4 separate regions of the Homo sapiens genome follow, and all the other regions are linked to region 2. Evidence: fine-mapped expression QTL. A gene starts in region 2. Each other region holds a variant in brackets. All regions are shown on one strand. Distances are between the middles of the regions.

The links. PIP is the estimated chance that this variant, and not a neighbour inherited with it, causes the effect.
Region 1: its variant is fine-mapped to the expression of EXT1 in CD4 T cells (BLUEPRINT, PIP 0.95).
Region 3: its variant is fine-mapped to the expression of EXT1 in whole blood (TOPMed, PIP above 0.99).
Region 4: its variant is fine-mapped to the expression of EXT1 in whole blood (INTERVAL, PIP above 0.99).

The regions. Positions count from the first base shown.
Region 1 is chr8:117,860,234-117,862,733 of GRCh38, reverse strand. All of the region lies in intron 1 of EXT1 (exostosin glycosyltransferase 1), which reads left to right. Among named protein-coding and RNA genes, the nearest start is that of SNORD168, 59 kb to the left of the region's middle. The variant AAAAAAAAAAAAAG/G (reference allele first, on the strand shown) is at 1,233.
Region 2 is chr8:118,110,522-118,113,250 of GRCh38, reverse strand. EXT1 (exostosin glycosyltransferase 1) reads left to right here and starts at 1,425. Exons shown (of 11, transcript NM_000127.3): 1 at 1,425-2,729. The coding sequence starts at 2,205. RefSeq lists silencers at 1,003-1,382, 1,483-1,572.
Region 3 is chr8:118,090,660-118,093,159 of GRCh38, reverse strand. The region is part of intron 1 of EXT1 (exostosin glycosyltransferase 1); the gene reads left to right. Among named protein-coding and RNA genes, the nearest start is that of EXT1, 20 kb to the left of the region's middle. The variant G/T (reference allele first, on the strand shown) is at 1,371.
Region 4 is chr8:117,854,512-117,857,011 of GRCh38, reverse strand. The region is part of intron 1 of EXT1 (exostosin glycosyltransferase 1); the gene reads left to right. Among named protein-coding and RNA genes, the nearest start is that of SNORD168, 65 kb to the left of the region's middle. The variant C/G (reference allele first, on the strand shown) is at 1,558.

The DNA.
Region 1 (2,500 bases), 250 kb after region 2:
AGTTCCCTGTCATGATTTGTAGCCACAGGTGACTGGCATTTGCAGGACTTCAGTGTCAGTAAGCCACAGTCTCCACGGACCACATCCCATTCCTGTCTAATTCCCCTTTGTAGATCTAACATCCAATTCCAGCAGTGCCTGGATGGAATGAGCACTCAGTAAACACTGGTCCCCAGTAAGAATAAGCGACTCACTGACTACTGAAGGAGGTGCTTTTATAGAGTGGATTCAATATATTTCTCCCTTCTGAGGTGGTCAACCCTGATTCCTCCTAATCCCACCAGTCTCCACCCGTTTTATTTACATTGTCATAGGAATGAAAGAGAAGTTAAGGAAATAATCAAATACTTCTTTTAGAGATGAGGTGCAGCCTCACCTTCTGCATTTGGCTATCTCTGTAACTCTTTGGTAGGGGGCTATAGAGCAGGAAGCAGGGCCTATTCTTTCCCACCTGGCTGGTTCAGTGAGGACGCTTGCCATGTGGATGTGCCCCATCTACTGGTTGAATTGCGTGGCTGCATTCTTAATGATTGTAATGCCCTGTCCATTCAGACTCTTTAACAGCAGCTGAGACTGTGCTAGAGTTTGTATCACACTTTATTATCCTGCTGGCAACAAAATTAACCATGAAGTGTGATTTGCTTACAGAGCGCATGATTGAGCATCTCTAGTGTCTAAATTTTCATCAGTGTCGTACAAATTCTTTTGTGTGGGTTTTGAAAGTTTGAAGCTGTAAAGTTTCACACTAATGTCCGTGGCTTAAAATTTATAGTTTAACATCAGTTTTCACCGTTTGGTTTGTCCCCTGTGTGCATTATGTTCACCAGATTTGCATCATTTAGGGATTACCTCTCTGCAAGATGTCTCAGAGATATGAGCACCACAACCATTTTTTGGTCTTCTCTTGAGGATCTGGGTTTTTAAGACAAAAACTTCAAGGCCGGGTGCAGTGGCTCACATCTCTAATCTCAGCACTCTGGGAGGCTGAGGTGGGTGGATCACTTAAGGTCAGGAGTTCAAGGCCAGCCTGGCCAGCATGGTAAAACCCCATCTCTACTAAAAAATACAAAAATTAGCTGGGTGTGGTGGCACGTATCTGTAATCCCAGCTACTCAGGAGGCTGAGGTGCAAGAAAAACTTGAACCTGGGAGGCAGAGGTTGCAGTGAGCCAAGATCATGCCACTGCCCTCCAGCCTGGGTGACAGAGCAAGACTCTATCTCAAAAAAAAAAA[AAAAAAAAAAAAAG/G]ATAAAAACTTCAGGGAGCAAATGGCATTTCCATGCTCTCCTTTCATACATACCCCCCAAAATCGGGACTTAAATTGCCTCATAAAGCTCAATAAGTAAATTGGAGAAGATAGACTTTATTGGCTTACTTAAACATAATTATTTTAAAATAACAAACTAGTCCCTGTGTTGATAAATGTTTTATATCTTAGCTGCTATGTCTGAATGCCTTGTGTAAATTATGAATTAGCTAGTAAATGGACTTCGCAAAGGATGCTCAGTGGGGCCTGTCAGCCAAGGGCTAAGTGGATAGCCTTTCTGACATTCTACTGCTTTTTAGCTGTTGTGTTGGGGACGTAGATGTCTGTAGTCTCATTGTTAGGGCTGAAAGATATGTTTCCATGAGGACCCAGCAGAGTAATAGTTCCAGTGGGTAGATGAAGGCCAGATGATTTGGAAATAAGCTCAAAATGTCCTGTGTCGAGTTTGGATAATTTTATAGCCCACATAAAACATTTCATATTAAAGTCAAATCGTTCGTCCCTATTTGGACTAATGACAGCTGCTTATTTCGACTAAGAAAGCTGCTTCCAGCATCTGAGATGAGTTGTATCTGACCTTTAGCCCCTTTACCTGTAGACCAGGGGTTACTAACTCAGATGCCTACAGGGGCCAGGTAAGTGATGTAATAAATGAATCAAGCCAGCTCAGCTTCTGCTAATTTGCCGTGAGGGAGTACAGCAGGTCCAGTGCTGCCAAATCTTCCCATTTTTCATGAGATGCCTGAAATCCGGATTTTGGCATGAAATCTCATGATTTGAAAATGTTGGCAATTAATTTAAGAAAAATGTTTAGATTCAACAGGGACTAAACCAAATATATCTGCCAGAAGGATACTGCTTGTGATTCTCCAATTTGCAACCGCAGATAGTCCCTGGCAAAGATTATCTATGTAATAGATACTCTTTCCTTTACAAAGGACATACTGAATCACCAATTATTTGAAATAGATTTAGGGGGCACAAGTGCAGTTGTCTGACATGGACATACTGCATAGTGGCGAAGGCTGGGCTTTCAGTTTGCCCATCATCTGAATAGTGGACATTGTACCCAATAGGTAGATTTCTTCTTCTCTCATCCCCCTTCCACCCTCCCACCTTGAGGAGTCTCCAGTATGTGTTCTTTCACTCTGTATGTCCATGTGTACCCATTGTTGAGCTCCCACTTCTGAGTGAGAACATGCAGTTTTTGGCTTTCTCTTTCTGAGTCATTTCAC
Region 2 (2,729 bases):
TATAACCCTGCCCTTCATCCACACCCCGCTGGGGTTTTTGCAGCCTGAGGGAAGCCGGGAAGTGTCTGCTCCTAGCTCTCAGTCACTCCCATAATAAACAATCACTAAACAGCCGGCTGCCCTAGGCAACTGTCTAGCTTGCCCGAGCCCTGAGACTTTAGCTAGGCCAGAGGGTGGGAGGTGTTTTCTGTAAAGCAGTGTTCAGGATCTGAGGCCAGGGAGTTTGACTTTGACCAGAGATACTGTTTGGGAGCCTAGCACATCTTTGTGGACCTGGAGGATCTTTAGCGGGACTGCTCCTCGGTTACCTGAGTTATCTAATGAAGTTCTTCCACTGGGAGTGGCAGGAGCTTGGGCCAAGGAGTGGGAGGTCAGTGAGGGAAGGACCAACTATTTGGCACTAATTGTACATAAGGTAGTTTTCCTGATGCAAGTGTTCCTTCTATAGCTGGGACAGTTGGCAATTCTACCAGTCATATGTCCTTAAGAGATATCTTTAACACCACCACCACCACCACCACCACCAAGAGAATAACATCACTTTGAGGACTGGGGCAAGCTTAAATTAACTGGTTTCCCTGCAGCCATTAGAAAATTTATTTTTTCTCTGTGATTGGATCTCTTGGAAGCTTTCTTCATAATAGACAGAGGGGGCTCAGGCAAGGCGGCCTAAGTAGATAATGAGGATTTAGGATAGCCGTCTTACACTCTTAGCACAGAGGCAGGCATGAAGAATTGCAACAATTCCTCTTGATTGTAATAATTCCTCTTTATTGTTGGGCATTGGGGTGTTTCTTTGGTTTAAAAAAATGTGCTATGTAGAGGAGGAGTAAGGGGAGATTGTTTTAATGCTTAGCAGAAAATTGAAATACTGGGTCTCGGAGAGTGGAAGGAGGGCTGGGAGAGGCAGCTTTCGGATCGGCGGTCGCTTTCTATGAAGTCTTCCTTTCCTCCCTGCTTCCCTCCTTCAAAGCATCTTTCTCTAGGCGTTCCGGCAGGCAGCCCAGGAGGCCAGATTCTCCAGGGCGCCCGGGGCCGCGCGGCACGGGGCCCCTGCCGGTGCCTCCTTCCCCGGCCGCCGCGTTTCCGCAGGCGCCTCTGGTCCCCGGCACGGCGCAGGCCGAGATCCGGGCCTGGGCGCGCCGAGGGGCCGCGGGGCTCGCACCGGGCCGTCCCGCGCTCCACCTGCCCGGCAGCCCGCCGGCAGCTTGCAACCCGGGAGCCCCGGCTCCCTGCGCCCCCTACGCCCCCAACGCCGCGCCGGCGCCTCGGCCCGCGGCCGGGGGTTATGAATGGGCGCAGCGGAAGCACCGCCCCCCCCGGACGTGACGCTCGGCCAATGGCAGCGCGGGCTGCGTGGATGGATGAGGTCAGCGCTGTCGTGTCGGGAATGGAATGTGTAAGTGTAACATTCAGAACCGGGTAACATTCGGCGACCGAACGCGGCGGTCGGCAGCGTTCGCGCGGGGGCCTGCGAAGCGCTGCTCGGGGCCGGCACTGCCCGCGGGGAGGACGCGCCGCCGCCGCCACCCAGCGCCGCCGCCGCCGCCGCCTCCAGCCGGGCCGCCGCGCGTCCCGGGGGCCGGCCCCGCGAGCGCAGGAGTAAACACCGCCGGAGTCTTGGAGCCGCTGCAGAAGGGAATAAAGAGAGATGCAGGGATTTGTGAGGTTACGGCGCCCCAGCTGCAAGATGCACTAGCCGGCTGAACCCGGGATCGGCTGACTTGTTGGAACCGGAGTGCTCTGCACGGAGAGTGGTGGATGAGTTGAAGTTGCCTTCCCGGGGCTCATTTTCCACGCTGCCGAGAGGAATCCGAGAGGCAAGGCAATCACTTCGTCTTGCCATTGATTGGGTATCGGGAGCTTTTTTTTTCTCCCCTCTCTCTTTCTTTTCCTCCGTCTTGTTGCATGCAAGAAAATTACAGTCCGCTGCTCGCCCGCCCTGGGTGCGAGATATTCAGCCCCGCTCTCTCCCGTGCATTGTGCAACCCAAAGATGAAAGACCGAAGGGGAGAAAGTTAAAGAAATCGCCCACATGCGCTGGATCAGTCCACGGCTTGGGGAAAGGCATCCAGAGAAGGTGGGAGCGGAGAGTTTGAAGTCTTTACAGGCGGGAAGATGGCGGACTGGAGCTGAAAGTGTTGATTGGGAAACTTGGGTGATTCTTGTGTTTATTTACAATCCTCTTGACCCAGGCAGGACACATGCAGGCCAAAAAACGCTATTTCATCCTGCTCTCAGCTGGCTCTTGTCTCGCCCTTTTGTTTTATTTCGGAGGCTTGCAGTTTAGGGCATCGAGGAGCCACAGCCGGAGAGAAGAACACAGCGGTAGGAATGGCTTGCACCACCCCAGTCCGGATCATTTCTGGCCCCGCTTCCCGGACGCTCTGCGCCCCTTCGTTCCTTGGGATCAATTGGAAAACGAGGATTCCAGCGTGCACATTTCCCCCCGGCAGAAGCGAGATGCCAACTCCAGCATCTACAAAGGCAAGAAGTGCCGCATGGAGTCCTGCTTCGATTTCACCCTTTGCAAGAAAAACGGCTTCAAAGTCTACGTATACCCACAGCAAAAAGGGGAGAAAATCGCCGAAAGTTACCAAAACATTCTAGCGGCCATCGAGGGCTCCAGGTTCTACACCTCGGACCCCAGCCAGGCGTGCCTCTTTGTCCTGAGTCTGGATACTTTAGACAGAGACCAGTTGTCACCTCAGTATGTGCACAATTTGAGA
Region 3 (2,500 bases), 20 kb after region 2:
CTTTTCCCAAAGTTTTCTTGTATCTTCTCCACAAAATAAAAATTTCTTTCTTCTAGTTCACTGACTTGGAGATTCAAGCAGCAGCACGATAAAAATACCATATTGCATTTCCAATGAACTCCTTTAATTAGATGAGATGAATTAATTGGATTTTTGGGACATGTCTGTGAAAGTATAAGATACTCACTTTTGGAACTCCCAGGCATGGTGTGGCCTGGGAGCTTTCTCAGTTTGCTCCTATTCAGGACATGGTGTAAGAACTGTCATTTGAAGCCTGTCATTTTAGTCCCCCTTGGGGGTTTTACAAATGGCCTAGTGATTTTTCAGATAGCAGAGAATAAATCAGCAGTGATTTGGCCTGCCCTTCAGCCTAGGGCATTCCCTGGTTATCACCAGCCTCATCATCAGGTGCTTGTATTACACGTTTTTCTGTCCACACCGGCAGGTGAGATGGTAATCTAAGAGTTGATTTCCAACACGTGCGGAGGGACTTTCGAAAGTCCCCCTAGTCCCGGTATTCTCTTGCCCTGTATAATTTTAGGGGTCCAGGCATTCAGGCTTGGATCGTCCTCCTTATGTCTTTCAGGGCCTTGGAAAATTCTGGAATTTAGACAGGGGCAGTAAGTCAGTGGCTGTAGCCCTTGAATCCCATTTGGGACCTTAACTCATTCTACCTTGCATTATAATTATTTGGTTTTTAACTGTCTAGGTTTCTGTACTTTCAGGGGTAAAGCTGATTCATTCTCCTCTGTATCCCAGAGTCCACCTCCAAGGTGGTAGGTTGCTTGATAGGTGCTTAGTAAATATCATATTTGATTAACTTTTTGTAGCCTCCTCTTTAGTCTAGAAATTCTAGATCCCAAATAGAAGGTAAGATATGGTATATTCTGGACTTTTAGTTTTCTATATCTCCTTTTCAAATACAGACCTAGGGTGACAGACAAAAAAATATTGTGATCAAAGTATATAGCATTTCCTTTCATGGTGGAAAAATGTGCCTGATAAATGTTTTCTCTGCATTATTTTCCTCCAAATATATTTTAATGACAGTTATTTGGATATTTCACACTTTATACTCGACTTGGGCTCAGATTAAGTCTTGTGTTAGTTATAACCTTGAATAACAATTAGGTTCATGAGAACAGGGATGGTGTATATTTGTTTTTAATCTGTTTCCCAGCACTTAACCCAGTGCTGAGTTTATAGTGGGTCTCCAAGAAATACTTGTTGAATGAGTGGCTTTTGGTCATGGTGGCCTTTTAGTGCAGAAAAACTTTTGGATCTGAATTGTTAGATTTACTTAATTTTTTTGTAATAACACAGAGAATGTTGAATAGAAAAAGTAAGTTTAGAAGATACATATATATATA[G/T]AGAGAGAGAGGGAGAGTTAGATTTATTTATTTATTTATTTTTGTGAGATGGAGTCTCGCTCTGTCGCCCAGGCTGGAGTGCAATGGTGCGATCTTGGCTCATTGCAAGCTCCGCTTCCCAGGTTCACATCATTCTCCTGCTTCAGTCTCCCGAGTAGCTGGGACTACAGGTGCCCGCCACCATGCCCGGCTAATTTTTTTTTCTTTTTATTTTTAGTAGAGACGGAGTTTCACTGTGTTAGCCAGGATGGTCTCAATCTCCTGACCTCGTGATCCGCCCGCCTCGGCCTCCCAAAGTGCTGGGATTACAGGCGTGAGCCACCGCGCCCGGCCGACTTATTTATTTTTTTGTAATAACACAGAGACTGTTGAATAGAAAAAGTAAGTTTAGAAGGTATATATCCATATCTCTATATATTTTACCCTCCTTGAGGTTCGAAATAGTAGGAGTGAAATTAGAGATTTACCAAAATCGGATGATGATTTGCACCTTTGAAATAACTCATGCCTTTGATTGTCACTTTAGCTACAAGTAGGTTCCTGGTCATAACTGTAATATCCCTACAAGCCTGCTTTATGGAACTTGAGCTGCATCGTATTGTCTAAGATAGGCCTCGGTTCTTGGCCGGGTGCAGTTTATGTTCTTTGAAACTGTCTCCTTTTGGGGAGCAGGCTGAGAGATAGTGAACTCATTGAAGAGAATTGTAGCGGAACTCTCTAGCAACTTCCTAATAGAAGATGTCCCCTCCTTGACTTCTTTGGTGTTTCAGCTGCCCCATTGAAGGAAGGGACAGACTGTGCCCTTGGGACCAGAGCCTCCTTGCTAACTGTCTGCAAATGAATGAGGCACCAGCATGCCATGCTCAGCCAACCACCTGTGGTACAAAACAGCTTTCCTGGACTCTGATCCCTTAGTATAAACCTGTGTATACAGGATTCACAAGGATATAATTCTGTGGTGTCATCTATCAGGCACATGCTTTTTTTTTTTTTTTTTTTTTTTTTTTTTTTGAGACAGAATCTCACTGTCTCACCCAGGCTAGAGTGCAGTGGCCCTATCTTGGCCCACTGCAACCTCTGTCTCCCAGGCTCAAGCAATTCTCCTGCATCAGCTTCCCGAGTAGCTGGGA
Region 4 (2,500 bases), 260 kb after region 2:
AGATTTAGCTTTAAAGCTAAATATACAGCTTTTAAGTTAATTCTTAAGGGTCCTAGGATTTTTGGAGTGGTAAATGAGCATTGGCTTCAACTTCAAGTCACCAGCTGCATTAGCCTCTTAAAAGAGAGTCAGCCTGTCCTTCCAAACCTTTACACCAGTCATTGATTTCTGTTCCCTAGCTATGAAAGTCATAGAAGGCATCTTCTTCCAATCTAAGGCTATTTCATTTACGTTGCATGTCTGTTGTTTTGTAAAGCCACCTCATCAATGATCTTATGGATAACTTGCTGCAGCTTCTAGATCAGTACTTGCTGCTTCACCTTGCGCTATTATGATATGGAAATGGCTTCTTTTTTAAAGCCTCATGAGCCAACCTCTGCTAGGTTCAAACTTTTCTTCTGTAGCTTCCACATTTCTCTCTGTCATCATAAAATTGAAAAAGCCTTGGCCAGGCGCGGTGGCTCACGCCTGTAATCCCAACACTTTGGGCGGCCGAGGTGGGCGGATCATGAGGTCAGGAGATCGAGACCATCCTGGCTAACACGATGAAAACCCGTCTCTACTAAAAAAAAAAAAAAAAAAAAAAAAATTTAGCCAGGCGTGGTGGCTGGCGCCTGTAGTCCCAGCTACTCGGGAGGCTGAGGCAGGAGAATGGCATGAACCCGGGAGGCGGAACTTGCAGTGAGCAGAGATCACGCCACTGCACTCCAGCCTGGGCAACAGAGCGAGACTCCGTCCCCCCACAAAAAAAAAAAAAAAGAAAAAGCCTTACTCTGCTTTGGCTTAAGGGGAATGTTGTGGATGGTTTGCTCTTCTAGGCAGACCACTAAAACTTTTCCAAATCAGCAATAAAGCTGTTTCTCCCTCTTATCATTCATGTGTTCACTGGAGTAACACTTTTAACTTCCTTCAAGAACTTTTCCTTTGCATTCATGACTTGGCTGTTTGGCATGAGAGGCATAGCTTTCAACCTGTCATGCCTTTCAACATTCCTTCTTCACTAAGCTTAATCATCTCTAGCCTTGGATTTAAAGAGAGATGCGGCCGGGCATGGTGGCTTACGCCTGTAATCCCAGCACTTTGGGAGGCCGAGGCGGGTGGATCACCTGAGGTCGGGTGTTTGAGACCAGCCTGGCCAACATAGTGAAACCCTGTCTCTACTAAAAATACAAAAAATTAGCCAGGCATGGTGGTGAGCACCTGTAATCCCAACTACTCAGGAGGCTGAGGCAGGAGAATCGCTTGAACCTGGGAGGCGGAGGTTGCAGTGAGCCGAGATCGCACCATTGCCCTCCAGCCAGGGTGACAGTGTGAGACTCCGTCTCTAAATAAATAAATAAAGTGAGAGACGTGTGACTCTTCCTTTCACTTGCACACTTGTAGGCCATTGTAGGGTTATTAATTGGCCTAATTTCAATATTTTTGTGTCTCAGGGAACAAGGAGGCCCAAAGAGAGAGGGAGGGGAAATGGCTGGTTGGTAGCATAGTCAGAACACACACATTTTTCAAGTTCACCATCTTAATATGGGTGAGTTTTGTGACATCCCAAAACAATTA[C/G]AGTAGTAACATATCAAAGAGCATTGATCACAAATCACCCTAACATACAATAACAATAAAAGTTTTGAAATATTATGAGAATTACCAAAATGTGATAGAGACAGGAATTGAGCACGTTGTTGGAAAAATGGTGCCGATAGACTTGCTTAGGGTTGCCATAGACCTTCAATTTGTTAAAAACAAAAACAAAAACTCAAGATCTGCAAAGTGCAATAAAGTGAAGCTAGGCCCATATTTACAACTAGCTGAGCAGACCTGCCACTTAGTTTGGTGTTTTAGGTTTGAGATGATTTCCGACAACTTTACATGTGCTTAGCATCCTATCAAAGCAGTGGGGAGAGAGGATATGACTGCTTTATCTTATCCAGAATGCAGCAATCAGAAAACCTATAAACAAGCCATTTTAATGTCAGCATAGCATACATATAAGTTCTGCATTTTAAGGTTTAGTAGTTCATTATTTGAATTACTCATTGCAATGGGCACCAAAATCTTTTCAGTGCTCATTGCTTTGAAAGATTTCATTTATACCTATTTCTCCATATGGCATCAAAACTGCTGGTAAAAAAAATGCAAGTGAAGTTCAGCAGCATCTACTTCAGATTCAGAGGGCTATGTTCAGGTTCTAGTTATGCTTCTCTGGCTATATAACTCTGGGCAAATTATCACATCTCTGTCAGCCTTGGTGTGCAGCTGTGAAATGGGACCATAGTATTAGTGTTACAGATTGTGACACTTAGGACGCAATACTGTATGTAATTAGCATAGTGTTCAGCGAATGAGTGTGCTCTCAACAGTGTGGCTGTTATATCATCATTATCATTGTTATTTCTACATGCTAAGGTATTATTTTATAAACATGTTTTATATTATTGGCAACAAGCCTTTCCTTTAACACTTACCAGCAGCTTTCTTTTTCTATGCAGGACTTTGATTTAAAGAT